3 separate regions of the Homo sapiens genome follow, and regions 2 and 3 are each linked to region 1. The links come from fine-mapping of genetic effects on gene expression. A gene starts in region 1. Each other region holds a variant in brackets. All regions are shown on one strand. Distances are between the middles of the regions.

Region 1 (10,637 bases):
AGTAGCTGGGACTACAGGCATCCACCACCACGCCCGGCTAATTTTTTGTATTTTTAGTAGAGACAGGGTTTCACTGTGTTAGCCAGGATGGTCTTGATCTCCTGACCTCGTGATCCACCTGCCTTGGCCTCCCAAAGTGCTGGGATTACAGGCGTCAGCCACCGCGCCCAGCCAATTTTTATATTTTTAGTGGAGATGGGGTTTTGCCATGTTGGCCAGGCTGGTCTCGAACTCCTGACATCAGGTGATCTGCCCGCCTCAGCCTCCCAAAGTGTTGGGATTACAGGCGTGAGCCACCGCGCCTGGCCACTACTGCACTTTTTTACTTCACAAAGAGACTGTGAAGACCAAGGGTGGTTAGAAAGAGGGATACTGCTGACTTTAAAAGAAAACACAGTGGTGATTCAAGGAAGGGCAGGGTTACTGGTGGCAGTAACAGTTGAGATCTGACATCAAGTCATAGTAATAACATGAACTTTGTTAGCTGCCTTTATCCACAACAGCTTATATGCTGGTAGGACTGGTAACTAGATAATTCATACTGTTGAAGCTGTAGGGTTTTGTTGTTTTTTTATCAATTTTTCTTATTTTTTTAAGTGACAAAAAGTGTGTTTATGGTGTACATGATGTTTCAAAATACACATACATTGTGGAATGGCTAACTTAAGTAAATTAACACATGTATTACCTCACATACTTATCATTTACCTGTGATGAGAAGACTTAAAATCTCTCAGTGGTTTTCAAGTATACAAAAAAACATTGTTTATCCACAGTAGTCACCATGTTGCACAATTAGATCTCTTGAAATTATTCCTCCTGTATAACTGAATTTTTGTATCCTTGGACCAACATCTTCCTGATCCATGCCTCCTTCCTACTCCCTGTAGTTTTTTTTTTCCAGCAGGGTTTTCCTCTTGGAATTTTCATATCTCAAATTTCAGACTGTTAAATTAAGTCCCTTTTTTGAACATTCATGAAATAATGTCATGTGCCAGGAAAATCCACCAGAGGGCGCTAGATCATTTAAAGAGTCACCACCTGGCTTCTCCATCGCAAAATCGCGAAGATTGATGTCAGAGTATTGGAACTAGGTCCAGGTTGGAGGAAAAGAAAATCCATTGCACATTAATTGCGATGCTGGCCAACATTTTAGCAAATAATCTTTTTTGTTCTCCTTTTACCTTAGTCACTCTGCTTTTTTAGTATGTATGTTTATGCACTTCCTTTTACTTCTTTTAAATCAGTTAGGACTGTTCAGATTAGAATATTTAAGCTTGAAACCTCTGATTTGCTTTGAGAGCTGCCATAGACACACATGCACATGGTACAGAGGCTGCCCTTCTCTCTGGGAAGCTTTTGAATGAATTTAGAAATAAAAATAAGGCTCGTGGTGTTTTCAGAACAGAGGGTGAAGTTTCTACTTCTGTTGAGACTTTCAGTTCTTGTGCAATGGACCTCAATTTCCAGCCTGCAGACACACCTACATTAGGGGAAGATGTGCTGGGCTTAGAGTGCTTCTCTATACCTTTCCCATTTCCAAGGCTGTCCAGGGACTGGCAAGAAAAGGAGTGGTGTTGGGTAGTCAGAGAGCTCATTTAGGCTGGAGGGGCTCTGCTGTGCCCTGGAGTCTGGCCACAGTCTGGCTGTGGACATGCTGTGGACAGCATGACATGCAGGCATGTGCACATACAATTACGAGCTCAGGGGTCAGAAGATCTGGTTAGACTTGCCTGTCCATTTTTGGGGTCACAGTAATTATAGTTAAGATCTGTATAATATTTCCTTCCTTCCTTTTTCTTTTTTCTTTCTTTTCTTTCTTTCTTCTTTCTGACAGTTTCACTCTGTCATCCAGACTGGAGTGCAGTGGTGCAATTTCGGCTCACTGCAACCTCCGCCTCCCGAGTTCAAGCGATTCTTATACCTCAGCCTCCCGAGTAGCTGGGATTACAGACATGTGCCACCATGCCCAGTTAATTTTTGTATTATTAGTAGAGATGGGGTTTCACCACGTTTGCCAGGCTGGTCTTGAACTCCTGACCTCAGGTGATCCCACCGCCTCAGCCTCCCAAAGTGCTGGGATTACAGGAGTGAGCTACCATGCCCAGCCTTCTTTTTCATCCTCACATATAACCCTTCGAGGTAGGCAGGGAAGTTTCTGGCTTTATTTTGATTGTATAAATGAAGAAACACATCAAATCAAAGATACCTAAGGTTCCTTTTAAGTTTGAGGTTCTGTCTGTGCAGAGCCTTTTCCTAAATTTGTAATGCCAGGGGCCAAGTTTTCTGGAAGTGGTGCAAAAGTTTGTGAACAATGTGGAAATGGCCAGAGAGAACTGGGCAAAGGCCTGGGAATGTCTATTTCTGGTGGATGGTAGCACTCTCTCAGTGCTTACCAGCCAGGCCATTCAGGGAGGAGGTGAGAGACTGGGGATTGTAGGAAGGAAAGGATATTGACATCAACACTGAGAGTTTCTGATGATTCCTGACTAAGCCGAGGCTTTGGACAGCACAGAAGTTGCTAAAAGCTTCAATCAGCAGAGGCAGGGGTGATGAAGAGAGCAGGAGATGGCATCTGAGGGGCCTCCAAGCACCCTCTCCAAAGATGCTGAGGTGATGAAGGTGATGATGGAGGAGAAAAAGCTATAGATCCTGCAGTTGGGGTGACAGAAGTCACGGCCATCGGCTGCTTACCAGTAGACCCCAGACTGGCATTTCAGGGGAATCCAGGCTGTAGGGAATGTCTAAGAAGGCCCCAGAGGGGATTTGCTGGTTTGCAAAATTTCAATTTTGTGGGTGAGGGAATCCATTCTGGAGGTTTCATATCCCACTGGGGAGACAGTCCTATCCTTTGCTGCCCTTTTTATGTTCTGGGTGTTTTATTTTTAAATTTCAAATCTTGGCCTTGATTTAAGGAATGTCCTTAACTTTCTTGGCATTGCTGAGGCACAAAAGCAGCAAACTACAGCCATTGAGAGGCTAATAAAGGAACCTCAATGCCATAGTCACCTTCCTGCGCATCCCCACAGCACTTCTGGGTCCCGCTCCCCCAACCCAGTACCAGAAAAGGCCCAGGGCCTTTGCATGCTTGGGTCTGGTGTGGCAGGGATGCATTCAGAGTGGCTGAACACAGAGGCCGAGGTTGGAGGTACTATGGGATGGTATGGAGAGGAGGCTCAGACAATTCCATTTTCTGGAGCACACTTTCTGCAGCTCCCTTTTACATACACTTCTTTTTGAGAACCAAATACTCAAGAACTCTTACCTCATTCCATTTTCTCCTTTGACTTTGGCCTTGACTCTTTCTTAGTGGATGTGTACTCTAAACCCAATGAATGTATTCCGAATCAAGCAAGAGAGAAGCTTCAAACATCCTCTTCAGCCTCTCTGCCCAGCTCAGCCTCCCTTGCTCGCTCTTCCTTCCAGAGACCTCCAAGGACAAGGGCAGGGCTGATCTGACTCTCACGGAGACAGCCTCAGGTGTAAAGCTAAGGATGCTAACTTGGGCCTTTTCCATGGGAAGAGCTGAAAGGAACCTGAGAATTCCAATTAGGCTTAAACTAATGAGCTGGAAACTTTGGGGAAACCACTGCAGCAATGAGGGAAGAGCGTGATCATCCTCGATTTAATTAGCGCTGGAAAAACTTGGGGTCCAGCTGGTAGCACGAGGACGGACGCTGTTCAGGGGGCGCAAAGTTTCTGAAAGTGTCAGAAGGGGGATTCCCCTGGTGGTGTACGGAGACACGCTACGGAACAAACACGGACTCCTTCTTCATCTTAAGTGGGGAGAAGGGAAGACCCTAAATGGGGAACGGTGAGCCAGAATGAAGTCTGGAGTCCCTCTTCCCCCATCTGCCCTCCTCACGGGATGGATGGAGTCTGAGACTATATGAGAGGAAAGCAACCCTTCAGGGAACTCTATTGTCTATCGGGGCCTGCACTATCCCCAGGCCAGGTCGTCCTTGATCATTTCTGCCTACTCTTTGTTGGGCAGCCTCTGTTGCTAATAAGGAAAAAGGAGAGAAACCACCTGCTGCTGTCAGAGGCCACAGACCACCCGCTGGCCTTCCTGACTCTACCCTCCAGCCACACGCGGGACCCTGGGCACATAGGTAGCAGGAAGAGCGAAGTAGGGGTGGGTAGCTGTGTGTATCCTGGCGTGGGGTCCTCCTCACTCCCGAAGCCCGAGGGTCCTGGGGAGCTCAGCCTGTGGAATCCAGTTGACAGCTGGCCACTCCTCCCCTCCCCACTGGGGGCTCTTTGGGGAAAAAAACGGCCTGACCGGGGCGCCCCGCCGTCCTCCCAGTGTACCCCACCGCTCTCGGCTGGGGGCGCAGCACCTTGGAGAGAGGCGCCTGGCCCCGCGCCTGGGCTGGGGGCGCTCTACCTTGCGCCCTGGGGGTCAGGGGCGCTTGCCGGGCCGCTGCCGAGGGGCCCTGCCCACCCCTGCCCAGCCCGGAGCCCAGGCGAGCCAGCGCGGCGAGCCTCCTCCCCTCCCGCCTGGGTCGTCCTGAGTCCGCGCCCGCTCCAGTTGCTGCAGCTGCTGCTGCTGGCGGCTGCGGGGAGCGCGGGGCGCGCGCCGAAGAGGCTTGGGCGGCGAGGACGGGGACGAGGAGGAGTCGGAGGCGGCAAGGAGGAAGAGCGAGCGGAGGCCGAGGGGCTCAGCGGCGTGGCGACAGGACTAGGGGGTCCCGAGAACATGGGCTAGCAGGCGGCCACGGGCCGGCGGCCGGACGCGGTGAACCTGCCGCGGCCGGGCGCGCACTGGCGCGGCGAGCCGGAGCCGAGCGCAGCCGGGGGAGGAGGGCTGGCGCAGGGGCGCCCGGGCGGAGGGGGCCGATTATCCATTATTAACGAGTTACCACCTAATAAGCGGAGAGCGGCTCGTTAGCCGCGCGGGAGGCGCTCGGGGAAGGGGGTCACCGGCCGAGCGCAGCGCACACCCGTGGCGCACGGCGGGCGGCGCGGCGCCGAGGACACCCGGGACCGCGCGCGGAGCCGGGGCGGGCCCGGGGGCGGCGCAGACCCCGGGCGCGGGCGGCCCGCGGCGCCCCCTGGCTCTCGGCGCTCGGGGCCAGCGCAGCCCGGGGCGAGCGGGGCGCGGGCCGGGGAGGGGGAGCTGCCCGCGCACTCCATCCCCCTCCCCCCCGGGCGGGCGGCGGCGGCTCGCTGTATATATCTCGGCGCACCCCGCCAGGTCGCGCACAGCGCCCCGAGCCCAGGCGCCTCCCCGCCCCCCTCCCGCGCTCCGCGGCGGCGGCGGCGGCGGCAGCAGTAGCAGCAATATGGCTGTTGATGGGTGTTTGGGGTGGCGCTGGCGGCGGGAGGAGCTCCCCCGAGCCCCTGCGCCGGCTGCCCGTTGCTAGCTATGGCAAATGGTGGCGGCGGCGGCGGCGGCAGCAGCGGCGGCGGCGGCGGCGGCGGAGGCAGCAGTCTTAGAATGAGTAGCAATATCCACGCGAACCATCTCAGCCTAGACGCGTCCTCCTCCTCCTCCTCCTCCTCTTCCTCTTCTTCTTCTTCCTCCTCCTCTTCCTCCTCGTCCTCGGTCCACGAGCCCAAGATGGATGCGCTCATCATCCCGGTGACCATGGAGGTGCCGTGCGACAGCCGGGGCCAACGCATGTGGTGGGCTTTCCTGGCCTCCTCCATGGTGACTTTCTTCGGGGGCCTCTTCATCATCTTGCTCTGGCGGACGCTCAAGTACCTGTGGACCGTGTGCTGCCACTGCGGGGGCAAGACGAAGGTAACGCGCGCCCCGGGCGCCCGCCCTCTGCGCCAGCCCCACCGCTTCTCGGCGTCCCCTGCAGCCCACCTCCTCGCTCCGCGCCGCGCCGTGCCTCCCTCCATCCCCGCCTGCCTTCCCCTCGCCGCCTTCCCTTCCCTCGGCTCTCCCGGTGCTCTCGGATCGGGGCAGCGGGCGGCGCGCCGGGGGTGAGGAGTTGCCCCCAGCCAGTGCGCTCCGGGACGCGGACGCTCAATCCTGTCCTCTTGTTTATTGTAGGGTTGTTGGCGGCTGCGGCTGGGGCCGGGGTCGGGGACTCACAGGCTCGGGTGCCGTGGTGCGGGGTGGGGACAGCCAACTCAGCGGGGACGGAGGAAGCTGGGGGCAGCTGGGTGCGTGTTTTGCACCGCTCACCTGCCGGGGCTCGGCTCCTGGCGGTGGGCGAGAGGGAGCACATCCGCCCATACTTTAGGAACCTGTTGGGGAGATGAGTTCGTGGGGTCAGAAAGAAGGGAAAAATCCTTTGGGCAAGGGAGAGAATAATTTTGCACAAGGGAATCCCGGGGGAGGAGCATGGCCCGAGATAACAGGGGGACTTCGAGGGGCGAGAGAAGTTGGGGAGATCCATCCCACTATTGGGGGTAGCCCACGGGGCTGCCACTTTTGGAATGTGTCGAGGTCGCATATCTGATGTAACCTCCCACTCCGTCCCTTAGGTGCTCTAGTGGAACATACCCCAAGTTCTTCGGCCTCTGTTCCTTTGCCCCCAGGCCACCCACTTTGGGTCCCCGGAAATGCCACCAGCAGCGCGGAGCTGGAGCGGGAGTCCGCCTGAGGCCGCGGTTTTACGCGGAGCGTCTTCCCTGGCGCTCGAGGTGGCTAGATGTCGTCGGCTTTAGCTATTCCTGGTGCAGACGCCCACCGGCACTGAGGCTGGCGACACCTTCGATGTATGGTTGCTAGGCTCACTGCCTGGTCTGTAGTCGTGTCCCTAGAGATGTCTTCCCTTCCCCACAGCCACTGGCTGGAGTGGGGGACCCGACACTGATAGAAAACTGCAGAATAAAAAAGAAAGAACTGGAAAAAAGAGAGTGAGCCAGCTGCCTTCTTTCTGAGTAATTCCCATCCTAGGGGACTTCACGCGCGAACCGTTTTGGAGGGAAGGGAAATCCAGGGGAATAGTGCAGGGTAGATACACATTGCAGCCTCCACATGTTCACATCTTTTCTAGTAAAGTTAAACCGAGGACCCCTCAAACTTCTACAGGGCACAGCAACTTGTAGCAGCCTCCTTGGCGGCTGAGAGAAGTAGGGAAGCCTGGGGCTATGGGTGAAGGCTGGCTATGAAAACACCAGGGGGGAAGGAGCCTGTCTCTCCTGATCATTAATTATACATCCTGTTGGGTGCTGGAGCTCAGCTGTGTTTTGTGGCAGCACATTTGTGTTTTGGAAAATACTGGTGTATTGGAACAAAGGGAGAAATATGAAAACCATCATTCTCTTCGTCATTCTCTGGCTTCTCCGGAGGCCTGCAGGTGCTGGTCGGAGAGTTTTCTTTGGAATTACCTTCTCAGCCGTAGAGGTTTCTTCTTATTTGTTAAGGAGGCAAACCTCCCACCTTCCAGAGAAGCCCTCAGGTTAAGCAAAGCCCTATACACCAGATCCCTGACTAGCCTTCCTGCTGAGAACAGCTTATTCCTGGAGCCTTCAAATTCCCACATTCCCTCTCTCCATCCTTCTCCTCCACCTCCCCCAACAGTCTCGGGAATTTTGTTCCCCGGTTTACTGAGATTCAGCGACTGTCTTTAGGGGAAAGATAGCTCATAGTTGTGTGCCTCTGAAATGTTCCCTAGATAGAGTGATCTGGGTGAACTTTTTAACAGCTTGCTTTCTTTCAGGCAGGGGGCAATTTTTATCATAATGAAAACTTTTTCCATGATTGAAAATAAGTTGTGGTGTTTTTGTGAACCTGGGGTCCTAAACACAGCTTCCAAAGTCTTTTTATGTTAGGGGGTACATAAATGCAATTGCAGTGTCTGTAATGAAATGCTAATCCCATCGCACACACAAAGGATCTCCTAAATGATGAGCAAGCATAACTTCTGTCAGTTTACTCAAGAAAATAGGTTTTTGGCAACGATTAGAAAAAACAATTCGTAAATATTTGGCTATGTTTTGTAGCCCCAAGACCTGCTGAGTGGACATAACTGGAAGTGAGTTGCTGTAAGAAATCTGCCAGGGATGAGAGGTGATGGTGGTTTGTTTGGAAGATGTGAGGCCAGTATAGAATGAGTGCAGGTTCCTTTTGATACCGTAAGTCCATTTTAAAGCACACCTAGAATCTCTTGATACCTGCCCCTAGATTTGCTCACTTAAGCCATAGGTAGCCAGCTCATTATATGCAGTAACGGTAAGTTAGGCCTTTTAAAAGCTTTTCTTTCTATGCTTGAGGTCTGTATTTTTATTGCAATTGTGTGTGTGTGTGTGTGTGTGTGTGTGTGTGTGTTTGTCTTTTTTTCTTTTTTCTTTCCAAGTATTTGGTAGTTTTGTCAAGACTCGATACACAGGCATGTATTTGGCTTAAGCTTAGAATAATAATTTTTGTGCTAGATTTCCCAAGAAAACATAGGCTGCCTTTCCAGAAAATTCTACCAGCCCTCAGATGGGTTCACCCTCACCCTCCTTCAGCCCCAAGATGGTTTGATCAAGAGCTGGAGTCCAGAGGAAAGCAGGTCTGAAATTCTGTGGGAGATAAAATTCAGCAAGGAGCTCCAATTTCATGAGCGTTTGGTCTCTGGGATCGCACCAAACCTTTTTGATCAAAGGAACCCAAGACTGTGGACATGCATCGTGGGACATCTCTTCATTAGTACCTTTGGCCTCTGAATCTCAAACAGTGAATGACTTTAGTCTTTTGAAAAGAGTGGCATGTGGACTTTTTCAGAAAGTGAAGAAGAAAACATTACAATTTCCTCCTGTTGGGAACTTGGTCACAGTCATTCCAGTACTGTGTTCTTTGCTGTACTTTTTCACATTATTGTTTTTTTCCTTGTGGGATTTCATCAGAGCTCTCTATTCACTTGGGTGTGACGTTGTGAAGTTCAATCCTGTCATAGACTATATTGAATAGGGAGCTGCTCTGGTAGCCTGAATAAAGCCATGACTTTGAAGAAGTTATTTAACCTCTCTGGTGTCTATCTTTCCTTGTGTATAAAATGTGGGGATTGAATTCTGTGAGTTCTAATGTCCCTTCCTGCTCTGTGATTCGATATAGGAGAGAGGGAGGAGTTGAGGAATGAGGGTTAAAGTTTCTAGCTCAGAATGTGTTTTGCAGTTCCCTAGCAATTCCTTTAGGAATTCAGCCTTGGGACAGTTACATATCTTTATTTCCATCTTCTGCTCGTCTTCCAGCATGTGGTCTACTTCTCTTTAAATAACTGGGGAAACTGAGGCCAACTTCCTGTTGGAGCTGTGGTTTGTTGAGGGGCCTGAGTGTGGCTGGGCATAGAGTTATTTCCATTCTCAGTTTGAGCTGTTGGCCTTGTAGAAGCTTGGGCTTGATCAAGGATGGTCTGCGTGTAATGAATTATCGAGATGTTGTCTCCATGGCTGTGCCTGAGAAAACAACACGTTTTCTCTGTCAGGCTCGTGACTAATATAAATATCAGATCCCATTACAGCTTGGTAATTACCCAGGGTCTGGCCTGACGCAGTCAATCAGGGCTGGAGCTTCAGTGCCGTGGAGCTCTTGATTCCAGATTGGCCCTTGTGCCTCATCTCATCCTGTCCTGGGGATTGGCTGCACCAGATGACCTTGAGATACTCCTTTTTGAGCAGATCACTTGGGGTGGCCTTGGAGGAGTTCTTGGGTCCTAGTCACGGGGGAGCTCCAGCTGACCTGCCCTTGTCCAGAGAGCTCGTGCTCCTCATTCCTTGCTCTCTCTCTCTCTCCTTTTATTAATTTTTTTTTTTGAGATGGAGTCTCGCTCTGTCACCCAGGCTGGAGTGCAGCGGCACGATCTTGGCTCACTGCAGCCTGCGCCTCCTGGGTTCAAGCAATTCTCCTGCCTCAGCCTCCCAAGTAGCTGGGACTACAGGCGCACGCTGCCACACCTGGCTAATTTTTGTATTTTAAGTAGAGACGGGGTTTCACCACATTGGCCAGGATTGTCTTGATCTCCTGACCTTGTGATTCGCCCACCTTGGCCTCCCAAAGTGCTGGGATTACAGGCGTGAGGCACGGCGTCCAGCCCCTGGCCCTCTTTATGGAAATGCACACTTTAGTACAAGACTCTGCAATCAGGCAAACCCAAGTTCAAATCATGGATCTCACATTTATTAGCAGGGCATCTTTGACTGCCAACCATGTTGAGCTTTGGTTACATCACCTATACCAAGAGCATACTGATGCTTACTTTGTAGGGTTCTTATAGGGAGCAGGAATAATGGGCACATAGCACCCTGCAAATGCCAGACACTTAGCAGGCCTCTTGTAAGTGGTAACTATCATAGCTTCATGAAGTGCTGAGTTTATTTTCCCTTTGATTCATTGAACTTATAGCCCCTGAAGGGCGCAGACTATAACAAATAAAGTTTTTGAGCCAAAAGGAGGCTTTAGATCCTGAAGTATACTGTCATAGATCAAAAAACCATTTAGAGTCAGACTGAGACATGGGCTTATGGCTCTTGGCTGTTGCAAGGCTGGAAAGTTAGGGCAGGGCAGCAGAGGTAGGCTTCACGGATGGGGTCCTGGCAGGATGGTTACAGTTTTGATGGTGGGGTATCAGTGGACGAACATCGACAGTATGGGGGACCAGGAGCTGCTGGGCTGGCAGAAGGGAAACACTGTGGCATTTGGTGGGCAGGTATGGTTGTCCAGCATTGTACCCTTGAGGAGGGACAAATTCCATCCC
Region 2 (10,637 bases), 140 kb after region 1:
TGGGCTCCTCTGCTGTGCACCTCATTGCCCATAGAATGCTACTCTCGGATCTTGCACTAGAGCACTGGATGATGAAGTGAAGCCTTGCAGAGACCTGTGAGTCTGGGTGAGTGAGCTGGAACCATGAATAGTTCCAGAAGGGGAACTTAATCCTGTGATATTTCTTCTCTGTGTTTGGTAAAGCCACTGCACCTTGTGCCAACTGTTTGCATCTGGCTTGCTGTTTAACCTGGCCAACATGCCAGGTACAAACTGTGCTTGGACTTGTCCTCCTTCCTGGAGCTGCCACCTGCTGTGTCAGGGACAAGCCCCTGCCCTGGCCAGTTTTCTTCTGGATGTATCTGCCATGTGATTCCCAGGGCTTCTCAGAGCTGCTGCTGCTGCTGAACACTGCTGTGATCCATAGTGACCAGGGAGTCCCGGTGCCTGATACTTGGCTCACCTCCCTGTTCAGCCCTACTGATGTAGGCAGCTCTGATGTGAGGTTCTTCAAGGGCCTCACTCCTTGTTTCACAACCATCCTGCCGCTTCTCAGGGAGCAAAGCTGCCCAAGGGGCCTCCCTGCCTTCTCTTTTTCTGCATAACTGATTTTTTTTTTTCAGATTCCTTTAGGTTTTTGGCACATTGATGGCACCTGTTCCTAGTTTGCTGAGCTGTGGCAGGTTTTCCAGGCATACTGGATTTGTTTTGATTTTGAAGCAGGAATCTGGGCAGGAGGGCATTGCATGCCTGAGCTCTTGTTGCCATGGTATTTGTAAATGGACAAATGTAAATGAAGCCAGTGGCAGCATCCTTCTCCCTCCACTGCCCATGCTCCTGAGTGTGGGAATTGGGGGACAAGTCACTACTTCTTCCTGACTTCTCCTTTACTCACCTGCAAGTTAGCCACATCTTCCACTTTCTCCCTTATTCCCCACCTCAAATACAAAGTCCTAGGAGAAGAGGACTGGGAGCACTGGATTTGATATTGAATTGGAGAAGACCATTACAACCTCAGATTCTAAGATTCTGTGATAGCATCTGTCCTGGTGATCTAAGTCGGGTTAAACTCAGCTCTCTTTTAGGAGATCAAGAGGTTTTATAATATAGGTTGGGTCCCCTGCCAGTTCTTCTTACATATCACACAGTCTTAGTTTGGGGACACAGTTTTTGGAAGCCTGTCTGCGGGGGTTCTGGAACTCAGGGGTGGATGCAAGAAAGCAGCATTGGTTCTTTGTCACGAGGTGAGAGCAACAGTGTCAGGAATAGACTCTGTGAGCTCACCCACCCTCAAGGGGCATCGACTTCCAGTGCATCACTTTCAAGTTCATCTGTGTCTGGCCATAGGCTTGGTCACATGCTGAGGTTTAGTGCATGAACCATCATGTCTACTGAGGTACCTGACACTCCAGAGGCATTCAATATGTTATGCAAATGGCCTTCATGCCCAGGCTAATTAGGGAGTCCCCATTGGACTTTGATTATTCATAAAAGACAGTTGATAATAAAGCCCTGGCTGCTTTTGAAAATTCATCAAGTAAGAATGCAGGGTTTTTCCAGTGGGAGCTCAGACAAAAAGCCAGTGGAAGGACACAATAGGATCAGTGCTGAACTCCCATGGTTAGTTCGCTCTCTGAGATGCATGCACAGACCTCTGCAGAGGCCTTGGGCAACACTGGTCCTTTTGTTCGCCTGGGTCCTTTTGTTTGCCTGGTCAGCAGAGTAGAGGGTGGTGTCCTAGTGAGGACAAAGGATTCAGGAAGAGCAAGGTAGTGTGGGTAGGGGCTGGTAAGGATGGCGAGTGGGAAGACAATGAGCAGAGCTTTGGAGAGCAGAGTTTGAAGTACTTGTGGGACACCAGGTGAAGACAGCCAGGTGACAGCAGGAGCCAGGTGTCCTCAGGCTCTTGCTAGTGCTGTGTCCTGGTCAACACACTTAATCTAGCTGAACTTCAGTTACCTTACCTGTATGTAAAATGAGGATGTTCATAGCTCCCTCACAGTGATGTTGAGAAATCAAGTAGGTAAACAAACATGGTATATAGCTTTGGGGGCCCACTGGTCTGACAGGGCGCTCAACCTGTCCTCTTTTTTTTTTTTTTTTTTTTTTTTTTTGAGACAGTGTCTCGCTCTGTCACCCAGGCTGCAGTGCAGTGGCGCAATCTTGGCTCACTGCAAGCTTTGCCTCCCGGGTTCACGCCATTCTCCTGCCTCAGTCTCCCAAGTAGATGGGACTACAGGCGCCCGCCACCACACCTGGCTAATTTTTTTGTATTTTTAGTAGAGACGGGGTTTCACCATGTTAGCCAGTATGGTCTCGATCTCCTGACCTTGTGATATGCCCATCTCGGCCTCCCAAAGTGCTGGGATTACAGGCGTGAGCCACCGTGCCCGGCCCTGTCCTCTCTTTCTTGAATGGTGCTCCTTCTAGAGCATTCCTTGTAACATGCATGAGGTGGTCTCTTATCTTGAAGACCCGCACCTGGTGAGGAGGGTGACAGACAGGATTCTGTTGTCAAGGAGGTGGTAGGAATGGAGTCCAGGGTGCTGCTAAGGGAGGGCCAGGCTGTATGGTCAGGTGGGCACAGCTGCATGGAGGATGCTTCAGGGGCTCTGGAGAAGAAATGAGTGACAGAGCTTTCAAGGACCACCTTCTAGGGGTGGGGCTTCCAGGCCTCCAAGGAGGGCTCTGTGTCTTTATCAGACCGATGGCTGCCCAGAACCTTTGGCAGAGGGGCTCAGCCTGCCTTGGTGCCAGTGAGCTTCCACACAGGAAGACTTCCTGAGGCTGGTGGCTTTCCATGAGCAACTACAGGGAGGAACCGCGGGGGTACTGGTGGCTCAGTAGCCTCTGCTTCCTCTGAGGGAATGGAGGGGTCAGTCCCTGGTGTGGGGGTCTCTTCCCTGTCCTCTGCTCATCATGAGGCTGGCTTTCCTCTTTTGCCCACCCCTTGGGCTGGGACCAGAGCACAGCCAGTCACCAGTATGGTGGCCCAGCACGGCAGGCTGTGCCTGTCTGTGTACACGCCAGCTCCATGAGGTGGAAGCTTTGGCAATGGGCTCCCAGGGAGCTTCCCCGCAGGCTTCTCAGGGGAATGTGTTGGGAGTAGATGCATGGAGAGTTCGTTTTTTCTCCCTTTCATGAATGAGAAAACGGGCAGAGAAATCACGGCACTCATTGGCCGATGTTTCTGTTGGTGCAGATTACCAAGGGTGCTGAAGTCAAAAGGAGTGAGCCACAGTCAGCCCTCTGGGTGGTTGACTGCCACTGGGGCCTTTAGACCAGGAAGGTGTCGTGACCGAGGTGGACCTGGTGGTGAGATGCAAGGTGTGGCAGCCTGATGCGGAGGTAGCAGAAGGGAGACAGGCCAAGTCAGGGCAGCCGGCAAGGGGCCCATCACAGAGCAGTGCAGGCGGGAGGCCACAAAGGCCTGGGCTGGGGTAACGTGGGGGCTGGAACCGGGAAGCTCCTTCACACATTGAGCCTACTTCTTGGGACTCTGTTCCAGTATATTAGTAATGTTAGGAATTTCAGTTTGGCTTTTTAAAAAGCTGTTTTTCCTTTGAGGAACTCAAATATTATTGGTTGAATTGTGTCTCCCCAACAGATAATGAAGTCCTAGCCCTCCGTACCTGTGAATGTGACCTTATTTGGAAATAAGGTCTTTGCAGATGATCAAGTTAAGATGAGATCATTAGCGTGGGCTCTAACCCAAAATAACTGGTGTCATATTTATAAAAAGGGGAACTTTGGACACAGAGACAGACATGCACACAGGGAGAATGCCTATAAAGATGAAGGCAGAGATTGCGGTGATGAATCTGTAAGCCAAGGAAGGACAAGAAAACTAGGAGAGAGGCCTGGAACACATGTGCCCTCACAGCCCTCAGAAGGAACTGACCCCAACGACATCTCCATGTCAGACTTCTGGCCTCCAGACCTGTGAGACAATGCATTTCTATTATTTAATCCAACTCAGTTTTTGATACTTTATGATGGCAGCCCCAGCAGACGAATTCACCAAGCTTCCCGGATCCCATTTCTTCACTCTCTGGAAAACTGCTCCCTCTGGTGTCTGAGAATCACACGTATGACCTCCCTGAGGGGCTCAGGGTTGGCAAGGCCTCCCCATCTGGGTGGTGAAAGGTGCTCTCTGGGCTGCAAAGAATCCAGACAGCTCTGTGAGCAGCGGCTGCCAATTCACTGACATTGACTGACTCTGGGGACTCTACCCTTTTCATCCCCATGTGCCCGTTTGTCCAGCCCCTGCAGAAACCCCTGTGGGGTCTGGCAGTAAGCGAGGCTGCTGTTCCAGGGAATGTGTGTGCTGAGGCTAGCCAGGCAGCTGGGCTAGCCTCCTCCTGCACAGTCCTTCTTAGGAATGTCCTAAGTACCTATTCAGCCCTGGCCTGAAGCAAAGGAGGCACTGGGTAATGAGGACTGGGACCCCATTGCTCATGGTCCAATTGGCGAAATGCCAGATTAAGCACAGATCACTTTTCAAAGTCAAAGGCAACGTGGTGAGTTTCTTTGGCATTAAAAGTCCTCTCCCATGGTTATCCCATTCTGAGTAGCCAGTTGTGTATTTATTCACCCAGCCCTGTGTTGCGGTTATTGTCTTTTGAGTGTTTGATTCTATCCCCTTTATATGACTCATCAGCCCCCAGAAAGCAAAGGCCCTGTCTTGTTCAGCCTGGCACAGGGGCAGCCGAAATTCCCACAGGGCTCACCTCCTTCGCCTCTGCCTGAGATGTCTTATCAGCGTCACTCTCATTCTGCAGGGGAGGAAACCAAGACTCCAGGGTGGAGTGATTGGCTGTATGTTTCACCTGCAGCCACGCGAGGCCCAGAAGTCTTCCAGTGCTTTGGAGGTTCACAAGAAATATGGTGACTCAACTGGAACCACATTAGAGGTCAGCATTTAACAGGTCCCCTCAATTTTCCCACAAGGGCCAGTCTTGTGTCCTCGGCTATGACCATGAGCCACTGGGGAAAGAGATGCTCTCTTCCCTGCAGCTGCACGGCTCCCCGTGCTGGGTTGGCCACACACTCCCCACCCAGTGCACCTCCGTTGATTGATTGACGTGGTGTTAAACATGTGGCCTTTTGCAGGCAACTCTAGGAGGGTGATGAGCTTTGCAAATCTGCCCAGTGCCTAAAACTGAACCACACACATAATTCACTCACACGCACTCGCTCAGTTGGGCGTGCATTCTCACTGCCATCCTGCCTCCAACTCACGCTTGACGCCTCACAGTTCTGGACTTCTCTTCTACCACACAGCAGTGCCTGCCCTGGCTGGCCAGTACTACATTCCTGACCTTTGGGTTTTGGGTCCCTGGGGGCAGCTTGCTGCCATCCGAACCACCAGGCCCTGGCCCTCAGCGAGGCTTCTCCAAGTGTTCTGCTGCCTTACTTCTGCTTTCGAAGCACCATGCCTGTCCTGGGGTGGAGTCAGAAGTCAGAAGAAGAGGCTGATTAGCCGGGGTGCCCTTGGAGGGGCCAGGGTCTCCTGATCTGCAGCCAGGGCTCTGCATTTAGGAAGCCTTGTCAGAAGCCTGCAATTGGCATTGAATCTGTTTAGAGTGCTCAACCTAGTGCCAGGAACTGTGGGAAATCTGAAGACATGATCAGTTTCCAGAGAGTCAAGACAACCAGCAGAGGATTCAGGTTAATAAACTTAGACTTGTGTTCAGCTACCTGGTTCAAATCCCCATTCACTGGCTTTGACCACAGGAGAATGATTTCACTTCTCTAAGCTTAATTTCTTTGTAAAATTTCACAAGGTATTATGAGCATTAAATATGATAATACATGCAGAATGCTTTAGTACATTGCATAACACATTGTAGGCACTAATACATCTTACCTTACAATACTCTGGCCTCTCCTCTCCACTCCCATACAAGCGAGGACTCTTAGACAGTGCCTGTCATGTGCCAGACATCTGTAAAGGGATCATATAAGCATTAACTCATTTAATCTTTACAGGAACTCAGGGAAAGACTGAGGCACAGACTGA[C/G]GAACTTGTCCATGGTTCCAAGGTGCAGAACCAGGGTTAGACCTAGACCGTGAGGCTCTTGCATCTGTAGTCTTGCTTAGAGCACTACTTGCAAAGAAGCCTTGGGTAACTTCCCTATACCTCCATTTCATCATCTCGAAAATCTAGATGATGATGATACCAGCTAGGATCCTCAGGAAAGTTCCCTGAACTTCATTAAGGGCTTAGAATGATGCCTGGTGCATCCTCAGTACAGAGTAAATGCAGTGGCTTCAATAAGAAATACAAGTACACAGGTGGCCAACAATTCAAGCTATTAGATGCAGAAGGCCAAGGAGGTGATCCAGCTCTTTCATTATGGGGAATCAGAGCATGCAGATCAGCAGGGGCTGGGTTATGAGAGATGAGGAGTGGGCTGATCCAAATGAGAGGTCAGCTTGAGCAGAGGGGAGGATGTGGGAAGGCAGAGAGTGTGGAAGCCATGTGTTGGGAGCAGGGTCTGAGAACATCAGGTTGGGGACAGCCCACGAGGGACCTTCATTAGCAGTGTGGATTTTCACCTGCACTCTGTCGGCAAGCACTGAAGGTTGTCATTAGCACACTGGCTGTCACAGACCAGAGGGGCTTCCCATTCAGTCAAATCTTGCTGCCCATCCCCAGTGAACGGAGCAGTAGGCAGTGAGGCGGGACCGGCAGGGCGTACAAGATGCTCGCCCATTCCCTCCATTTGAATTGGGCTTGGGACATCCCAAGGGGCTGCTGCCTGGGCCCTGAACACATCTAAGGGCTATGGGTTTATGGTCTTTCAGCTGCTGTTTATGTCACAAATGCCTGTCACAGAAGGGGCATTAAAAATAACCGAATGGCTAATACCATTTCTCAAAATAACTACTTGCAAAGTGCTTTGCTGGGGCAAATGGCTACTAAAATTAGACTCCCTGGTGGTATATGTAGGGTGTGTGTGTGTGTGTGTGTGTGTGTGTGTGTGTGTGTGTATGACTTCTAAACCCATTTCCCCCCAGGGTGAGGCCCACAGTTTGCACCCTTTTGTTCTGTGGTCCCTTCTGTCATAGCTGGGTGTCCCAGAACAGTGTTCACCCAGTCACCCCAAGATGCCCTCTTTCATCCTGCAGTCCTCAGCAAATTGGAGCCACTGCCCTACATTGCCCTGTTGTCCTGCTCTAAGGAGCAGAATTTTGAAGAATCTTGGAGGGCGGGGTGGCCTCATTGTAGCAGTGGCCTAATTCCTTGGTGTGCCAGGTAATAATAGCACGCCGTGGGGGGAATCTCACTCAGCATGCTGTCCGAGGGGAAACTGGGCCATGGAACAATGTGGCAGCCCCACTCAAGGTGACCTAGTAACTGAGGGCACGGACACACGATTTTCCAGGCCCCAGTTCCAGATCCAGGCTCTAGAACTCTTCAGTGGTCTCCTGGGCCAGTCCTTTGGGCCACCAGGCAACCAGGTCACTCAAATCCAATCAACTCTCCATCCACTAATAATACAAAAGGAAATGTGGGATCTTAAGAGCAAGTTAAGAAAACAAAGTGAATCAGCACTGTGGGGGATTTTGGATTCAGGACAAACAAAACCTGAGAGCCAGCGTTGGTTTTCTTTTAGATAATGACTTGCACGGAAAGAGGTGGACCTCAGTGTCTCCATCTTTGAAATGGGGGAACACTGAGTTATTTAGCAACCATTTATTGAGGGAGTGCCTGATGTGGGCCTGGCTCCTACAGTAGGGCTGATTAGGGCTCCTACAGTAGGCCCTGGAGTTACAAAGAGTGGTTCAAGGTAAAAGCAAGGTCAAGATACATTTACAAGCCAGTGTGTTGTCTGTACGTGGCAGCCCTATAAGGACTGGGGTTCTGTGTGGTCCTAGAGATTTCGGTCCTGGAGATGAAAGACTGTGAGTATTTACCTGGAATGGAGGCCCAGGGAGGAATGAATTTCCCTACTCCTGTGAGAGCTGTATGTAAATAGACTGTTTCTGTGTTGGAAAGAGCACAGGCAGAGTCTGTGACTTTAGGCAAACTGCCTAATTTCTTTTCAACTGCTAAATGTGAATAAGCACAGCACCAACCTCCTAGGTCTATTGTGAAGATTAAATGACATAACCTAGTGTGGTCTTAGCGTGTTGTAGGCACTCTACACACTCTATCGTTAGTAGTAGTCATATTAATATTAAACTAGCAAAAACTGTTTGCCCAAGAAGTTCCAGTAAATCATTCCCTTCAATCAGGGTGATGATAATTTTATTTTTTAGTATTATTAAGTCATTGCTGTCTGTAAGGCCATCAAAGAGCTGGAGCCACTTGCTGGAATCAGGCTAGGTCAATTTCTGAATGCTGGAATGAGGTTGAGGGGAGTGAGGTAGAGGATACATTTTTAAAAAGTTTACATGTAATCAAACCCTGGTCATTCACATCTCCTGTTAGATTCATTATGGGAGTTGGATATTTAAGAGGAATCTTTGCCACAAATTCATGTGTAAACCCAATAATTCTCGACTGTTAAAAGTGGTGGGAGCCCTAGATATTAGGATATAGGGTCATTTAACCCCGTGGTTCTCAACCAGGCATGATTTTGCCTCCCATGAGACATTGGCAAATTGGGGTGGGTGCTGCTGGCATCCGGTGCGTAGCGGCCAGGGACACTGCTCATCTTATAATACACAGGATAACCCTCCTCAATAAAGAGTAATCTGGACCAAAATGTCAACAGTGCCGGGGTTGAGAAACTCTGTCCTAACCTGAAGATGAGACAACTGACCACCAGGAAGGGGGAGTGACTTGCTGAGGTTAGGCAGCACAGCTGCACCAGAGCTGGGATCCAAAGTTTGAATCAATTGACCAGAGGCCAGAGGCCAGACAGAACCTTGATACTGTCATCTCACCTGTGAAGTAAATTATCAACCTCACCCATGTGAATGAGGCCTTACTCTATAGTATTTTCAAGGCTCTTTCTCTTGTGATATTAAGCTCTGCTTTGGAAAAACCAGGTTTTCCTATTCTGGGCTTGCTGATAGAGTAAGGATGGTAGATTCAGCAAATGAAAATAAGGTTGTCCAGGCCAGGCGCGGTGGCTCACGCCTGTAATCCCAGCACTTTGGGAGGCTGAGGCAGGCGGATCACCTGAGGTCAGGAGTTCGAGGTCAACCTGGTCAATGTGGTGAAACCCTGTCTCTACTAAAAATACAAACAAAATTAGCCGGGTATGGTAGCGGGTGCCTGTAATTCCAGCTACCAGGGAGACTAAGGCAGGAGAATTGCTTGAACCTGGGAGGCAGAGGTTGCAGTCAGCCAAGATCGTGCCACTCCACTCCAGCCTGGGCGACAAGAGTGAGACTCCATCTCAAAAAAAATAAATAAATAATAAAAAATAAATAAATAAAAAGAAAATAAGGTTGTCCAGTTACATTTGAATTTCAGATAAGCAAGATAGGTTTTTGGTTTTTAGTTTTTAGTTTAAGTATGCCCTATGCAATATTTGAGACATACTTATGCTAAAAAATTATTTCTTGTTTATTCTGAATTTCAAATGTAACTGGCACCCTATCTTTTGTCTGTCAGCCCTGTGAGCTCTACCCATCGCCCTGAGATCACAGGTAGGCCCTGGGGTCATCTACCCCTGTCTGAGGCTCCTGCAACCCTTATGACCCCCTCTGCCTAGAGGGGGAAGATGGGAAGGGGCAGGTGGGCCTTGAGTGGAGCAGGCATTCCTAGCTCCTGGCCTGTGGGTGCCTGGGAAGAGCCGGCTAGCCACACTGGGCTAAAGGGCCTGTAAGTTGAGAGGTTGGCCAAACTGTCCCTTTTTATAACAGGAGAATGGTTTAAATGAAGTGTCAGCAGGTGACCTATGGCCCTGGAAAACCAAGTCTGGAGAAGTTGTGGCAACTTTGCCCCTGATTGGGGAACAGAGTGTCCTCTGCACTTCTACTGGTTTCCAGAGAACATGGCTGCCCTGGCTGAGGAGCACTTGGACATGGTACCTTCCAGGGCTGAGGTGCTGTCTCCTCGTCACCCCTGGGCTCTGGGCCTGCCCCAGGGGCCAGAGTTGGGCGGTTGTTCCTAATACAGGGGGAAATGATGGGCAGGGCTGTGCACCCACAGAGCTGCTGCTGAGCCGGCAGCTCAGCCTTTTTGTTTAGAAGAGGCCTAGATGTGGAGCCTATCAACAGATCAGAAGGGGATGCTGGCTCAGCTGCTCCCTCACCTTGCCTTATCCCACACCCCTTTCACCTTTGCTTCCTTACCAGCCCAGACACCAGGCTCCAAACCAGTCAGTGCTCAGGGTCCGGCAGCCAATGGCACAAGGTGGGTGGCCCACTGCCCTGCCCCATTCCCTCCGCCTCCCAATCCATGGTCCAGGCTGTTGCTCCCAGGTGTCAGGATGCCATCCCCCTTCCCCAGAGCAGCTTCCTGCTAGGAAATCTCATCCTCACAGCTCCTCCTAAAGGGCAGTCAGCTGGCCACAGCCACAACTTGGTGGCCTTTCTTCCTGTTGGCTCAGAACAGCCTTTGAGGGTCTTTGGGAGTAACTGCTTAGGGACTCACCATGTTGTCTGCCATCTTGTCGACATCGTTGGGCCACCTAATGACCAGGGCTGGCTCCACCTGGCCTTTGCTGCATGGGTGCTTATTAATAGGCATATAT
Region 3 (10,637 bases), 290 kb after region 1:
TTCTCAGAGTTGACTGGTAACATTAAAATGAGCATGTCTTCACTTCTGTCACTTACAAAGCTCTTAAAAAATTTATAATACTTTAAACATATCACAGTAATAAAAGCAATCGTATCTCTTTACATTGTTGCAGTCTTTTGGATAAAGTCCCCTGAAAGCATTGTCCTGGTGGTTTTCAAACTTTTTTCTTTGATCTTTCAGAATCTTTGTTCAAATGACATCTTGGCTAGACTCCAACATATAGCACAGATAAAAATGGAGTTGGGACTGCAGGGAGAGAAAGGGTGGAGCCCAGCTCACTGGACCTCTGCCTCCACCCCCAAACCACCCTCTAGCCTTTGAGTCAACCACTGAGTCACCGGTGAGCAATCCCTGTGGTTGCCCAGAGCATCATCCCACTAAGTCCTCATAATCACCAGGCATGATTGTGAGGTCATCACAGTGAATTGGTGCACCCCTGGAGGTAGGAAGGCAGCTGAAGAGGGGAGAGAGACACCCTCCCCACCCCCATATGAGGATGGTCTGTGATGATATGCATGCAGGGGAAGGGACTTATCCAAGGTCCCTGATAGATAGGGACTGGAATTTTGGCAGTGTCTTTTCTAGAGTAGAACAAATTTATCAGTTGAATTTGCTGTAGTTCTCTGAAGGTTTCTTTGGCCACATTAGAATTTTTGAGCCCTGGCATCCAAGTAGGCCAACTTCAAAATGGCTGTGTGCTCCACTCAGAGATTCTGCTGTGAAGACTGGCAGGAGATTTTTTAGCCTATTCTGAACTCCAACTGTTCCAGTTCCTCTTGCTTTCCAGAGGTGTGAGCACCTGGAAGCCCCTGCTCTGGTCTACACCCCAGGCTCAAGATTCATCCTGCTCACTCAGCCACTCATGCTGTCACCAGTGATAAAACTGTAAGTGTCAGCAGTTGCATTTGATTCTTGCACAAGAAATAGTTACCCTCTAAAGACTTGTTCATTCTTGTGCCTGTAAAGTGTGGTGTGCCCTATGCATCAGTATTCTTGCCTATGAAATGGGCATGTAGGCTGGGCACAGTGGATCATGCTTATAATCCCAGCACTTTGGGAGGCCGTGGCTGGTGGATCACCTGAGGTGAGGAGTTTGTGACTGGCCTGGCCAACATGGTGAAACCCCATCTCTATTAAAAATACAAAAATTAGCCGGGTGTGGTGGCAGGCGCCTGTAGTCCCAGCTACTCGGGAGGCTGAAGCAGGAGAATCGCTTGAGCCTGGGAGGCAGAGGTTGCGGTGAGCCAAGCCGAGATCGTACCACTATACTCCAGGCTGGGTGACAGAGCGAGACTCTGTCTCAAAAAATAAAAGAAGAAATGGGCATATAAATAGATCTACATAAGACTCACTGGAAGTTTAGAGCTCTTTAAAAAAATGGACAACAAAAAGTTTTTCCAAATAAATGTTGATTCTGGGCCTGGAAAGTTTGAGTGGCTGGCTTCTCAGAGACAGTTACTACCATCCATGCTCTTTAAAGTTCCATTGCTCTTATTCTAACCTTGAAATCAAAGAAACCAAAGCTGTGGTTTCTTGTCTGACCTTGGCTAATGATTTTCTGATTGACTCTACATGCAAAAGAACTGCTGATAAGTTTCTTATAGGGGAGAAAAGATGATGGGGAGAAAAGGAACTGAGTTCATTTCCTAACCTCAGTTTCCCTGCTTACTCACCCAGTGGGTTGGGAGCCACTTGCTGGGTCTGAGTTTCCATAATCACCATAGAAATGGAAGTAATATTATCCTTTTGCCCAGTCGATGGGAGGATGGAGGAATGTCTTAGTCTGTTTGGCCTGCTGTAACAAGATACCATAAACTTGGGGGGCTGATAAGCACATTTATTTCTCACAGTTCTGGAGGCTGGAAAGTTCAAGGTCAAGACACCAGCAGATTTGGTGTCTGGTGAGGGCCCGCTGTCTGGTTCATAGATGGCACTTTCTTGCTGTGTCCTCACATGGTGGAAGGGGCAAGGCAGCTCTCTGGAGGCTCTTTTATAAGGGCATGAATCTCATTCATGAGAGCTCTGTCTCCATGACGTTATCACCTCCCAAAGGCTTCATCTCTTAATATAATTACATTGGTGATGAGGTTTCAACGTATGAATTGGGGGTGGGCAGGCATAAACATTCAGAGCATAGCAAGGAGAATTCAGGGATTGCATTAAGAAAGTAAGTTGCTGAGCAAAGGGACTCATCTTCAAAGTCCAATACAATCTTTATAATCTTACAAAAAGCTTTCCTGGTTTTAGAATTAGCTCCAAGGAATTTGGCACTAGATTTTAGATTTGCTCAGAGAAAGAGTGTGAGAGAGAGAGGGATGTGGCTTTTGTGAGGAATTCCAGCACCTTCCTTTGCAAAGATATGCCCTAAAGAACAGTGGCGGCCTATCCTCAGGACAGAAGCACTTAATTTTGTCTAATTGTGTCAATTTCTAGGAGTCATTGGGAAATTCAGCAGCTAATGAAGATGGCCCTGTTCTGTCAGGTCCCTACTGGAATATTTAAAATTCTGTTTTTCATACTTATCAGCTAAAAGAATTACAGAAATATATTTCTGGATCCTGTGGGGAATAAGAGCAGAAATATACAAAGCTTCTTCTTTCAAGACGGATCCCAGCAGCCCAAGCTAATGTCACAGTTGTGTTAAAGACTATTGATTCCAGCAGGTTCTGGGCTGGGTCTCAGCTTCCCAGGACTGTTCCAGGCTGACCTCCTTTCCCTGGTTCCATCTTTTTTTGGGACTTCTGTGGGCCTTCATTCAGCATGTGGCTTGCGGGTGTCCAGGTCTGCAGGCATACACACCTCTCCTGATCTGAATCAGAGAACAAAAGATAAAGGATCGAGGACAATGGCCTCTTCACTTTTGCTTTCTCTCTTCTTTGGGTTTTACTTTGTGTTTCCAACAGCCAATGGAAGGCTGTTCTATTTAGGGTAAATGACTCAGACTTGGTACATCTCGAATCGTATGTCAGAGCACACTGTTGCCCCTCAAAGCTCAGGAAAGGCTGCATACTCTATCTCCCTCTTGATGGTTTCCTCGTATTTACAAGTTAAAGACCATAGATGTCCTGTAGTAAAGGGGTTAGCTTGCCTCTGTTTATCCCGGTGATTCTAGTGAAACTAAAATGCTTGTTTCTATGGGGCACAGTCCAGATGTGTTGTTCACTTGGATTGACCAATCCTTTCAATAAAGTTTTGATGCAACCATGTGAATCCCAAGTTTTCAGCACTTAGTTTTGTGACCTTGAGCAAGTCACCTAATCATTACATGCCTCAGTTTCCTCATCTGTAAAAGGGGATAATAAAAAGCATCTACTTCACAGGGTTGCATTGAGGATTAAGTGCTTTAATTAAGGTTTTAGTACAGTTTCTGAAATATAATGTATTCTATATATGGTAGCTATTATTATGTTAGTATCCATTATTATTTGCTGGAATCTTTTAACACTGTGCTGAGTGTTGGTACTGTCTTCTTATCATGTCATAGAGCATGGGGTAGTATAAGAATCCTACCTTAGGTCAAAGGTCACAAAGCCCTATTGTTTTATTCCCAATAGTCTTACAGGGAAGATGCAGTTGTCCTTGTCTTATGGAGGAAGGAGGTGAAGCACACCCGAGCGGTAAAGAGGCCCCTGGTCACACAGCCCATACAGGAGTCAAACCCTGGCCTCTGGCTGCAAGCCTGCCATCCCCAAGCGTCTCTCTAAAGCTTCTTGTCAACCAGCCTCAGACAGGGGCCCACAGACACGAACCTCATCTCAGCGTTGGTAGGAGGCACCTTCCACTTGGATTCTCTTCATGTGGTTAAGAGAGTCCTGAGTTCCAATCCTAAGTTCACTCGTCTCTACCTCCTTGCCTTTGTGCAGGTTACTTAACTTTTCTGACCATCAGTCTTCTCTGTTGTAACATAGGGATGGTAACACCCATTTCTTATGCATGCAGTGATGCTTAATGACATAATGTAGGTGGGGTTCATGCACAAGGCCTGGTATATGATGAGTGCTGGTAAATCTTAGCTCCCAATGACACTGTATCAGGCTCTGTGCTAGGGTGCTTTACGAAAATGATCTCATGTAATCCTCACAACACATCAGGATATTGGTACTCTTCATTTTACAGATGGGGAAACTGAGGCTCTGTGGGATTAAGGGACTCACCCAAGGTCATAAAGCCAGATTGTGACATTGAGATTCAAATCTTGGCAACCTTACTTTCTGGAAACACTTTCCCCCTTCCTCTTCTTTAGACCCACATGCAGGCTGCTTGCAGACTCTGTGCTTGGCCATGTTTCTTGGTCAGCAGGGCAGTCGGGCAATGGGCATTTTAATCATGTTTATGCTGGACAGGGCTGTCCCTTGGGCTTGAGGACAATGTTCTTGAACCAGAAGAATATGGCAGAAGTATAATGCCATTTCACCAGGACAGATGCATCAAATTCCATCTTGGGTCTGGTAATTCTGCCACAGATGGTGGCCCATTGATATGTGCATGCTTGGCTGGGGTGAGAGTCTGTGCCAATGTCACAGGACACAG[C/A]AACCCCAATGAGTCTGTTTACTTATTTAACAGTCAAGGTGACCAGAAGAGACACTTTCCAACAGGACACAATGAGGAGGTACCCAGCAAGTCTTCTAGCTGATTGGGGGAAGAAACCCAGTGTATTACAGGAAAATGAGAGAGTGCATTTGAATTTGTTTCTAATCTGAATTTTCCATATAAACTCTAGTTAGCAGTTTCAAAACTGTGGACGCACTTCAGCCTAAGGGACAAAAACAAAACAAATGACCCAAGGTACCAGCTGCAAGATGCTGGAATAGGAGGGAGGGAGGGAAGGCCAGTGAGAGGGCAAGATTATTAATATGCTTTTCTTACTAAATTGGCTTTCAGAATCAAGGGGAAGAACCAAGGTGGGTTGTTAAGGGAGTACTGATTTAGATGTGCTGAGCAGTTGAAATGTTTTTGTTTCTCAAACATGAAAGCACTTGGCTTTGCATGACTGGGTTTTAAATTGCTCAGCAAAGCATCACTTGGGGCTAACCTGAGTCTGTGAAGTTCCACAATTCAGGAATGATGGTTACTGCAGCACTCTTGTGTTTCAAGGTTCGTCATGAAGACTAGCATAGATTCCACTGTTCAATTAAAGCAACGTTTACCATGATATTCCTATTTTCCATGATGCAGGGTCCTGGGAAGCATCTCTTTCAGGAAGGGAGTATGTATTCAAGGTCAGTCAGTATATGAATGTGTCTGAGACTTGGATGGCTCAAGGGGATAGAGCTAGGTGTTATCTGGCAGTCGCAAAAGTGAGAGATGATGACAAGGCCAAGGTAGGTAGGAGAATGGGGATCCCTCATTCATTTATCCCATCATTATTTATTGAGCACCAACTGTGTCCCAGGCATTGTTCAAGGTTCAAGCACAAAGCCGTGTTCAATGGGTTCAGGTAGAAACATGCACAGTTACATCACAACAGAGTAAACCATGGGAACTGCATGGTGCAGAGTAGGGGGTATTTGCATGGCAGTTGAAGACCTGTGTCGGACGCTGATGCTTCTATAATAACCCAACTTGGTTCCTCTCCACTTTTAGAGCCAATTAATTAGGAAAAACACTTTCTTCCTTCCCTCTCTGTCATTCTATGTTGGCATTTGTCCCCCTTGGGTTGATGGGCAGACACAGGTATGAAACCCATAACTTCATCTCTCTGGGATTCAGTTTCTGGGCAGAGTGGGCAAGGGAGGCCAGGGTCTTCTAGACTCACTAAGTCAGAAGCATCTCCTCCTGATCTTTGGTTTAATTTTTCTTTTGAAGGTACTCAGTCCATGATTTCAGATTAGGGAGGCACCACCTGGCAAAGGGGGAGCCTGACAATGCAGGGCAGTTCTAAGTACCAGGCTTGGGACCGATTCTATGGAGATATGGTAGATGGGACTACCCTCAACTGAATAATGTGTGAAGAGAATTTAAGACCATGCCTGATACATAGAGGGTCCAGTGAAAGTTGAAGGCAAATAACCCTGGTAAAGAAGGCAGGAAACACAAGGAAGCCATTCATTTATTTATTATTCATTCAATCAACAAATATTTCTTAAATATTTATACCAACAAAGCATGGAACCTCTAGCCAAACTCTCTGGTTTCAAATCCTGGCTGTTTTACAATATCTGTATAACCTTGAGCAAGTTACTTAATTATTCTCTGTGCCTCCATTTCTTCATTTGTAACATGGGAATAATCAAAAAGAATAAATGAAGATTGTTATGAAGACTAACACATGATTGTTATTATTATCTTTTTGTTCATTTATTTAGCTGTGTCCTTAGTCTGTTGCTTGATTGGTGTGGTGTTGGGGATGTGGCCAACGGAGACAGGAAAGGTCTCCGTCTTTACCCACCTTATATTACAATAGAAGAGTCAGATTATAAAAAAATAATAAATCAATAAATAATACTTTAAGGTAGTGATGAGTGATGCAGGAAACAAGAGAAGATGATTGTGGAGTGAGTGATTACTACGGGTGAGGTCCAATGATAGAGAGGACTAGTGAAGAGGGAAGACAGTCAGTCTACACAAAGATCATCCTGTTGAAAAATATGAAATATGCAAGTCTTTGGAATTTACCCAAAAAAAAAAATAGAGAAAGCATTTCTTGAGTTTCCAAGAGAGGCAAGCAGGATGAGCCACCAAAAATAAGTACGGTTAAATAAAGATTGATTCTGGGACCAAATAAGCTTCAAGATAATTATTTCTCATGGTAGTGAATCAGTATGTCTCACAAATGCATTCATCTTTTCATGTTTTCAGTACCCAAGGTCCTTGATGGATGGATTAATCCTCCTTTTCACCTTGCTTCCTTCACCTGATCCCTCACCTCTCAATGAATTGAAATTAAGGACCGTTCATTTGGAAAAACCTATTAACTCCCTGCTTGTCGATGGCTTACTTTCTACTCAGCCTGGCTGGGTTCCACCTCTTAGCTCGTGAGCCCTCACGCAACTCTGCTGTCTCCATTAGTGTCCCTTGTGGGCTGGTGGCCGAGGCAGTTAGGCTTATGAATATTCCAGTTGCTCCTGTAAATTTCCAGCATCCACTGTTAGGCAGGACATGAGGCACTAAGGGATGTGCATCACTTCTGGGCTGGGGCAGGGGATGCCTGTGTGTGGTGGTGCAGTTGCTGTCTTCCCTGATGGCACTGAAGAGACTGTGGCTTCCAGGGTTGCAGTGCAAGATGGCGGAGCTTCTGATGCCTAGGCCCATGAGTGGGCAGGTGGAGCAGAGCCCAGGCTGCCTTTGTCTTCATAGGTCTCTAACTTCTTGACTTCTCAATAGCCTCAATGACTGGTTCCTTCCTGTATTTGGTAGGTGATTGAAAACCTCTTAACACATGAATTATTCAGTCTTGGCTAGGCCTTCTCCTAAACAGTTGTCTCTGGTTCTTAAAGTTACCTTTTCCTCCTCTCTAAAATAACTTACTTACCTTTTCCTGCCACGGACACTATGACCTCTTGGTTTTATTTTCTTGATTGTATTTGGCATTCTCTGAAATTGTCTTATTTGTACATTTATATGGGATTTGTGTCTCCTCGCTAGAATATAACTCTTATCTATTTATACTCCACTGTATCCTCAGTGCCTACAGCAGTATCTGGTTGAAAGGGGTGCCTGATAAAAATGTGAATGAAATGAATGCCAACAGCCAGGAAGGCACCTCATCCCCCTCCCCTCTGCCACCCCCTTTATCAGGGCTGGGCTGTGTCAGCTCATTGAGGCAGTAGGGAGTATGGTTAGGATGATGGACTGCCCGGGCTCAAACACAACTTCCCACCTGTGTGATCTTAGATAAATTCACCTCTCTGTGCCTCAATTTCTTTATCTATACAATCAGGACAATGGCAATACCTATCACATGGATTGTTTTTCAGTTTAAATGAGTTAATATACATAAAGTCCTCAGAAAATTATCTGATTCATAGTAGGGGCCATGGAGGTATTACCATTGTCAACAGTTACTGGGGAAGCAAAGGGCCTGTCCTCTCTCTGGTAACCCCCCGACCCCCTTCAGTCTCTTGAGAACCCGGCCTCAATGCTCACCTGGGGTCCCCTGGGATCCATTCAGCAAGAAGGTTCAGCCACACCAAGCCCTGTTCCTTAAGCCCAGGAGACATAAATCCACAAAGCCTACAGGAGAGATCCCTGAGGAAAGTGGCTATTCTGGATGGGGCCAGAAGGTTCTTTCTCAAGGTCAAAGCTCTCGGAGACCTGATGAGGCCCTGCCCCTCAAGCTTCTGTCCTTTCCACAGCCCTGCAGCATTATTTCCATAATGTTATTAAAAACCAATGTGTGCTGGCCAGATGAGTGACACTTCCCAGTGATGGGGCTCGGCTCTGCTCCTCCAGGCATGGAGAACTTGTTCAATTATGTGCCACCCCGTGATGGGCCCAATCACAGTACACACATTAGCTTCTGATTATACCCTTGTTGAGTTTCTCTTGACAGGAAGGAAATGAATTTACCTCGTGTCACCTCTGTAGTTTGCAAGCAGGCATGGCTTCTGATAATAGCACCTTTCATGTTTTGTAAGACCAAGGAGAAGCATTCGTGTGGTGGCCAGTCCTTGGTGACCCTTTGTCTCAGCCTGGAGGTGAGCTTGAGCTGATTCTTCATGGGAGTGTTTACTCCTGGGGCTTGTAGGAATCTGGCTGGGGGTTGGGTGGTCAGCTGTCCCATAAGATTGTGGGCCTTGGCCACTGCAGCATGCACATCCCTGAATCCACACTCTTATGGTATCGAGGCCTTGGGCAAATGACTGAATTTCCCTTGACCTTCCCTTCCACCTGTAAAATGGGGACAATGATAGTAGTTATCTCACAGGGTAGGCGTCAGATTTAATGAGCTAATAGATGCAAAGCCCTTGCATGTGCCTGGCATATAATAAATGCTACATTGTGTTTTTATCATTAAAATTATCTTAATATTATTTTGCTGTTGCTGTTATTATTGCTGTTGTTATTGCTTAGATTGGAACATGTCTTTGCTATTTATAACTGTGTGACCTTGAACATATCACTTAGCCCCCATGTGCCATGACATTTGTAAAATGGGGAAAGAGGAGTCTGTTCCTTGGTGCAGCTGCAAGGATGTCAGTAGGTTGGCACAGGAAAGGCCTTTGAAGCAGCATCAGTGCAGGGCAAGTGTTGTGGGTTATTATTGGTGACTTGCTCCCCTCACCAGAGGGGTCTTTTGGGTGCTGTGGAGCCAGAGGGGTCTGTCCATGGTGGGTTAGGATTATGCACTTAGGTCTTGCTTTCCATTTGGGACAGTAAGCATCTGAGAGAAGAGTTTGTCCCTGACTATACCAAATTCCAAGTTCTGCCAAGGAATCCTGGGGTAGGCCAGAAAGGGAGGCAGGAATGGAGCCAGTGGTGGACCCAGCGTTTCCTTCCAAAGCTTTTAGACTCAGCTGCTAAAGCCAGTCATGAAGTGGACGTGATTCCTGAGGCAGGGCAGCAGGCCCCTCTCTCACTACCCCCTTCACCAGCCCCAACCTTCAGCAACTTTTCCTGGCAGGAGACCACATCACCATCCCCTCCCCTTCCCATCACAGGCATTTCAGAACACAAGGGGATCTGGGGGACCCACGTCTAAGGAACTGTGACTGAGAGCCTGGGAAGGGCTTTCTCTTGACCTGGGAGAGGGAAAATTAGGCAAATTGCTGTGTTTCTCCACTGTAAACCTGAATGGGAATGAGGGAGGAGGGAGAAAAAGCCAGACAAAAATGGAGACACATGCAGAGAGATGGAGAAACAGAGAAAGGAGAAGGAAAGAGCTACAGAGATAAGGAAATGAGAAAACACTGAGAAATAATTGGGAAATGAGACAGACAAGCTCATAGAAGGACTTAGACCCAGAAAGGGAAAGTGGAAAATTATCTTGACAGCTAACACGTATTGAGAAGACAGTATGTGCCAGGCACTGAGATTAGTGTGTGATATATCTCATTTAATCTTTGCAACAATTCTATGAGATAAGTGCTGTTGTCAACTTCATTCTACAGTGAAAACAACGGACATACAGAACGGTGAGGTGTCTAAGATCACACAGCTTTTGTGGAGGAGTTAGGACTAGAATCCAGGTCAATTTGAGTGCAAAGCCCATGTGCTTAACCCCCTGCAGAGAGGCCATGACCCTGGGACCTAAAGCATGGCAGAGCATCTCTGAGTCTCCCTGCACTCTGGACATTGAGAAGCACTAGTCATTCTGTTTTGTAGTACAGATGTGTTTATAAAGAGACTCCAGGGAAGTCAGATGGGTAAGGATTATGCCTGTCACTCTTTTTTTTTTTTTTGGCATTTTTTAAATTATACTTTAAGTTCTAGGGTACATGTGCACAACATGCAGGTTTGTTACATATGTATACATGTGCCGTGTTGGTGTGCTGCACCCATTAACTCATCATTTACATTAGGTATATCTCCTAATGCTATCCCTGCCCCCTCCCCCCGACCCCACGACAGGCCCCAGTGTGTGATGTTCCCTTTCCTGTGTCCAAGTGTTCTCATTGTTCAATTCCCACCTATGAGTGAGAACATGCAGTGTTTGGTTTTTGTCCTTGCGATAGTTT

Direction of the effects. Positions count from the first base shown, and alleles are read on the strand shown. Sizes are in standard deviations (SD) of each study's normalised expression. Not every link is listed here.
With allele G in place of C in region 2, the expression in skeletal muscle of the gene that starts at base 5,203 in region 1 is lower (small effect, 0.25 SD a copy in GTEx).

The links. PIP is the estimated chance that this variant, and not a neighbour inherited with it, causes the effect.
Region 2: its variant is fine-mapped to the expression of KCNMA1 in skeletal muscle (GTEx, PIP above 0.99).
Region 3: its variant is fine-mapped to the expression of KCNMA1 in fibroblasts (GTEx, PIP 0.94).

What each region holds. Positions count from the first base shown.
Region 1 is chr10:77,632,374-77,643,010 of GRCh38, reverse strand. It overlaps KCNMA1 (potassium calcium-activated channel subfamily M alpha 1), which reads left to right and starts at 5,203. Exons shown (of 28, transcript NM_001161352.2): 1 at 5,203-5,746. The coding sequence starts at 5,369.
Region 2 is chr10:77,488,053-77,498,689 of GRCh38, reverse strand. All of the region lies in intron 1 of KCNMA1 (potassium calcium-activated channel subfamily M alpha 1), which reads left to right. Among named protein-coding and RNA genes, the nearest start is that of KCNMA1-AS3, 140 kb to the right of the region's middle. The variant C/G (reference allele first, on the strand shown) is at 6,002.
Region 3 is chr10:77,340,598-77,351,234 of GRCh38, reverse strand. All of the region lies in intron 2 of KCNMA1 (potassium calcium-activated channel subfamily M alpha 1), which reads left to right. KCNMA1-AS3 (KCNMA1 antisense RNA 3) reads right to left here and starts at 363. Exons shown (of 6, transcript NR_126365.1): 1 at 1-363. RefSeq lists an enhancer at 1-961. The variant C/A (reference allele first, on the strand shown) is at 4,552.